2 separate regions of the Homo sapiens genome follow, and region 1 is linked to region 2. Evidence: fine-mapped expression QTL. A gene starts in region 2. The other region holds a variant in brackets. All regions are shown on one strand. Distances are from middle to middle. Region 1 overlaps SRL (sarcalumenin). Region 2 holds the start of SRL (sarcalumenin).

Region 1 (2,906 bases), 28 kb after region 2:
AACTTCAAACTCCTAGGCTCAAGAGGTCCGTCAACCACAGCCTCCCCAGTAGCTGGGACCACAGGCGCACGCTACCATGCCAAGCTAATTTTAAAATTTTTTGGAAAGATGGGCCAGTAGTAAGACAAAGCAAGTAGTAAGCAAGACAGAGGTCTTGCTTTGTTACCCAGGCTGGTTTCAAACTCCTGGGCTCTAGGGATCCTCTCACCTCGGCCTCCCAAAGTGCTGGGATTACAGGTGTGAGCCATGGGCTCTCAGAGCCACTGCGTCCAGCCTAAAACAGTTGTTATTGAAGAGTAGAAGAGGGTGGGCTAAGAAATCACTGTCCTAGGGTAGACTTAGACCCTCTTATTGGCTGGCCCACTGCTGGGAGAGCGTCCATAGAGAGCTGAGTTCTAGAAGCAGACTGCTGCCTACTACCTTAACTAGCCCCATGGCCTTGGGACAAGCACTTACCAGGGTTTTGGGGTTTTGTTCATGAGTGAAATCAAGCCAGTTGGTCTATCAGAAGATCTCTCTGGACCCCCAAATCCCAAGGTTCTTTCTGATTGCTACCTTTGTCATTGTACCCTGTCATACTTTTGTCATTGTATCTGATTCCCTGGATGAATCATTTTAAGGGCTAGAGTCCAGCCAGGGACAAGCTGTCCCAGTGGGATTAGCCTTGACTTTAGGAGCATGGCCAGGAAGCCAAAGAAGCCTTCCAAGAATGGCTGCCTCAGCCCCTGCACTCTGGTCGCCCATGTTGGGAGAAGAGGGAAAGGCTGAGAGAATGGCAGAAGAGGACCTCAGGGGTCCTGGGAGAATGCAGACAAGCCTTCCTCCAGCCAGAATTTCTCTTCTCGGGTCCTTATGGGCAACAGCCTTCTGCAAAGTTGTCCTAAGACTTCATCTAAGAAGTGGAAGAGGCCGGGTGCAGTGGCTCATGCCTGTAATCCCAGCACTTTGGGAGGCTGAGGCGGGTGGATCACCTGAGGTCAAGAGTTTGAGACCAGCCTGGCCAACATGGTGAAACCCTGTCTCTACTAAAAATACAAAAATTAGCCAGGAGTGGTGGCAGGCACCTGTAATCCCAGCTACTCGGGAGGCTGAGGCAGGAGAATCGCTTGAACCCAGGAGGCAGAGGTTGCAGTGAGCCAAGATCGCACCACTGTACTCCACCCTGGGCGACAGAATGAGACTTCGTCTAAAAAAAAAAAAAAAAGTGGAAGAGCAAGGGGTCCTGAGCAGTGAATGTTTACCCAGTAGGATAAAGTCAAGGAAAAACAGGACACCAGAAGAGGCTGCTGGCCCACGTTTGCCCGGTCCACGAGTGTTCAGAGACAAGATCTAGAACAAGGAAGGGGGCAGGCTGCCTGCTCTGCGGCATGAACTCTGTTTTCTGAATTGCTCCCTGCTGCACTTAATATACAGCCAATGAGAGCCAAAACGTGGGGCGGGGGGTGGATGGGGGCAAGACATGGGGCTCACATGTATGCCATGGCTGGTGCTCCTCACTCTCTGGGACAGATGAACCAGGCAGAGATTTGGAGAGTGATTCCTGCCCCCGCTGGGGATTCTGTTACTAATGACTGATTTGCATAACTGTGTATGAGTAATGGTCAGAGGTATTTTACTTACGCATGACTTTGGACTTGCTAGCTCTAGTTCAAATGGATGAGAAGTCATGTGGAAGAATAACCTTGGCAGGTACTTGTTATAAACATGTGCTAAGGAGACTTGGACGGGCTGGAATAGAATCTACATTTGATT[G/C]CACGAAGGCACTGAATACATTCAACACCCAGAGGTGGGCTGAAAACAGGTCCTGACCTCTATTCTCTCCATCTCTAGTTTCAACTTCAAGACAGAGCTTCCTGGCCCTTGGTACTGAGGATGGCTAGTGCAGAGGGTCCGAAATGCTGGTGTTCTGTAGAATCCCCTTGTGAAACACACAGGTACACGTTGACCCAGCCCCAGAAGCTGGGTATCTGGGCTTGAACAGCTCAGCAGGTCATGGTCGCTCCCAGGGAGCTTTGTTCTGTCTCTTGGCCTGAGTTCCAGCCCATCCCTGGAATGACTTGTGAGGCAAACGACTTGACTTCCGTGTGTTTGTTTCCTCATTTCAAGAGAGGTTAACAACCCTTGCTTTTTCTGCCTCAGAGGGCTGCTAGGAGCATCAGAGAAGAATAAGCACAGGAAACTACCTTGGAAAGATGGAGTCCTACGTGAGGGCAGGAGATGACCCAGCTGAGAGCCTGGCACGTGTGGACTGGCAAAGTGAAAATATGCTGTAAGCGTGGTTCACACCTGTAATCCCAGCACTTTGGGAGGCTGAGGTGGGAGGATCGCTTGAGGCCAGGAGTTTGAGACCAGCCTGGGCAACATAGCGAGACCTCATCTCTACAAAAATGAAAAAAATCAGCTGGATGTGGTGGCACACACATGGAGTTCCAGCTGTTTGGGGGAGCTGAGGTGGGAGGATCCCTTGAGCCCAGGAGGTGGAGGCTGCAGTGAGGTGTCATTGTGCCATTGAACCCCAACCTGGGCGACAGCAAGACCTGTCTCAAAAAAAAAAAAAAAAAAAAAAAAAAGAAAAAGAAAAAGAAAAAAAAAGATGCTGTAAGCAGGATGTCTTGGGACGTTGGAGAAAATAATGGATAGGAGGCTCAAGGCAGATACTAATATTTTGAAGGAAGAAGCGAGGAGAGTAAAGGAGCAGGGCTTGCCAATCTCCCTGCAGTCTTTCTCTGTGGACACTGGGGCAGACAAATTCAAGGAGAGCAGGAAGTACAAAGTGGGTGGCTGTCTCTGCTGTTTGATCTTTCCTCACCCCATGAGTCACTTCTATGGAACCCTAGCACTTCATGGGACATGGTTTGTGAACTCCATGGGGGCAAAAAGAACTCCAGACTAAGGTTCATATATTT
Region 2 (2,906 bases):
GTCTTTGAAAAAGCAGTAGCTCATGCCTGTAATCGTAGTGCTTTGGGAGGTCGAGACAGGAAGATTGCTTGAGCCCAGGAGTTGGAGACCAGCCCGAGTGACATAGGAAGACCATGTTTGCAAAAAACAAAAAAATTAGCCAGATGTGGTGCACACCTGTATTCCCAGCCCCTCGGAGGTTGAGGTGAGAGGGTGGCTTGAGCCCAGGAGTTCAAGGCTGCAGTGAGCTATGATCGTGTCACTACTCCAGCCAGGGTGACAGAGACCCTGTCTCTTAAAAAAGATTAAAAAAAAAAAAAAAGTCAAGTGCCTACCAGATGCCTAATTCTTTTTTTTTTTTTTTTTTTTTTTGAGACAGAGTCTCGCTCTGTTGCCCAGGCTAGAGTCAGTGGTGCAATCTTGGCTCATGGCAACCTTCGCCTCCTGGGATCAAGTGATTCTCCTGCCTCAGCCTCCTGAGGAGCTGGGATTATAGGCACCCGCCACCACACCCAGTAATTTTTGTATTTTTAGTGGAGATGGGGTTTCACCATGTTGGCCAGGCTGGTCTCAATCTCCTGACCTCAGGTGATCCACCCGCCTCGGCCTCCCAAAGTGCTGGGATTACAGGTGTGAGCCACTGTGCCTGGCCCTGATTTAGTTCCTTTCCTCCAAGGCTGGCTTCTACCTCTTCCCCACACAGTGACACTGTACCCCGACCAGACAAGCAAGTGTCTGCTTTCCCTTGGCTTCTTACAACTGGCTCTCTGGGCCATCTACAAAAAATTTTAAAAAATTAGTACAGCATGGTGGCACTACTGTCCTAGCTACTTGGGAGGCTGAGTTGGGAGGATTGATTGAGCCTGGGAGGTCGAGTGCAGTGAGTGATGATTGTGCCACTGCAGTCCAGCCTGGGTGACAGAGCGAGATCCTCTATCAAAAACAAATAAACAAAAAAGCACTTTGCAGAGGTGACTGAATGTTCTGGAACCCCTGGGCCATTGGAAATGGATATCTGTTGCTCCATCCTCCAGTTTACACCGTAGCCTCAGCTTGTGTCTCAGTGTGCCCCTCTCCCTCTGGTCTGTGCTCTCTCTCTTCCAGAGGCTGGGAAGGTTGTTCCAGGGCTGCAGCCTTGGACCTCAGAGGTCACATGTTGCGGGTTTGCCGTAGCTGACCACTCTCTAGCATGTGGATCAGTGGCTGTTAAATAGGATTTCTTTTGCGTGGCCTTACAACTTCCTCCTTCCAGTGCAGGCGTGTCAAGGTCCTTAACCTGCCGAGACTTCAGGTCAAGTTATTGCAAGTTCTGGGAAGACTCAGCTTCCCAGCTCCACCGCCTGAGCCCAAGGGATGCTCCATTTTATGCCTGTCACCCACGCCCTGTGACCCATGTCATGTGATCCCAGGGCTGCAGGGGTTCGGGGGAAGAGAATCCAGCCACGGCCCTGCCTTCTGGGGCCTGGCAGCTGGGACAGCAGTGGCGCAGCCTGAGCCTCTGCACAGCCTTCTGGGGTCCGGGCTTCTTCCCCATCACACCCTCCTAGTTGCCCTGGTGACTGTGTGACCCCTCTCCCCCCTCCACCGCCTGCTGCCACGGCCGGCCGTATAAATAGAGGCGAGGAGCAGCTGGGCTCTCTTGGCAGTCACCATGAGGGCGCTGGTCCTGCTCGGCTGCCTCCTGGCCTCGCTCCTGTTCTCAGGACAAGCAGGTAGGGCCCCTCCCAGCATGACCCAGCCCAGACTGGTCCCCCACGCTTCCTCCAAGGTTTTCTGTCTACCATGGGTTGGGTAGGGGGTCGGGGCTGATGGCAAACCCTGGCTCTTGGCTGGTGTCTTCTTACCCTTCTCTTTTCCCCGGGCCTGGGGCCTCAGAGAAAGAGCTGGGTGCTGGAGAATAGCAGCACAGTTGCGGGGCCCTCAGGAAGGCCAGAGGAAGTGGGAACGGCAAACAGAGCTGAGCTGTGAGCCAGGGTCAGAGAGGAGTCTGGCCAGTAGATGTGGGAAAGAGGGCCCTCAAAGTCGAGACGGGGGAGCCTCTGAGACGGACAAAATAGCACAGTCTGGGAGCTGGAGGTCGTTGAGGTGACCCTCCCACCTGGTGGGATATAAGGCGGAGGCCCCACTCGGGTAAGAGAACTGGGTTTGCGTGGACAGAAGGGGATACAGTGGGCAAAGGTGGGGACCGTTTTGGGAGCAGTGAGATAGAATTGGAATTGGTTTGGGATAAGATCGGAAATAGAGTTGGCGGTTGGGCTGGAAACAGCATTGGATGCAATTCAGAAGAGGAACGGGGCCCGTTCTGGAGTAGAGCCTCTGCTCGGGGTGGGGGCTTCCATCAGAAAAGGGGCTTGGCTCTGTGTGCTGAGGCTTCCCTTTGACATCTCAGCACTTTGGGTAGCAGAGGTGGTGGCTTGGGTTGCAGCATGGGGGTTATCTATAGGCTATGGAGGAGATGCCAGATTGTTTTGCCACCTCTCTTGTTCCTAAGGTTCCTGAGGCCAGGTTCCCCGAGGGAATGCTTTTAGGGAGGTGCTCCGGGGATCCCCCTAGGATCCGGACTGCCCACCGAGTCTTTTCATGACTCGGCAGTCTTCCCCCAAGCTGGGCTCTGAGCCTAGGTCCGTACCTGGGACTGGAGAGGCCCAGAGTCCAGCCTCTCAGGTCTTTGAGGTTGAATAGGGGGTTGCAGGGGCACAGTCCCTGCAGGGAGAGCAGGCAGTGGGTGGGAACAAAAGCTATTTCTCGGGGACTCAAGATGTAAGGTGGGGGGCTCCAGCCACTGCATGTGCTGCTGGGCCCTGCCCTTGTCTGTCCTTGAGTTAATTTGGGCTCTGCAGGGCTGCAGCGGCTTGAGTGCTGAGTATTCCAGGCGGCTGTCAGGCGGCTAAGTATGGAAACAGCCGCGTAATTGGATCCGGAGCCCC

The links.
Region 1: its variant is fine-mapped to the expression of SRL in skeletal muscle (GTEx, PIP above 0.99).

The regions. Positions count from the first base shown.
Region 1 is chr16:4,213,069-4,215,974 of GRCh38, reverse strand. The region is part of intron 1 of SRL (sarcalumenin); the gene reads left to right. Among named protein-coding and RNA genes, the nearest start is that of SRL, 28 kb to the left of the region's middle. The variant G/C (reference allele first, on the strand shown) is at 1,753.
Region 2 is chr16:4,240,792-4,243,697 of GRCh38, reverse strand. It overlaps SRL (sarcalumenin), which reads left to right and starts at 1,618. Exons shown (of 6, transcript NM_001098814.2): 1 at 1,618-1,691. The coding sequence starts at 1,631.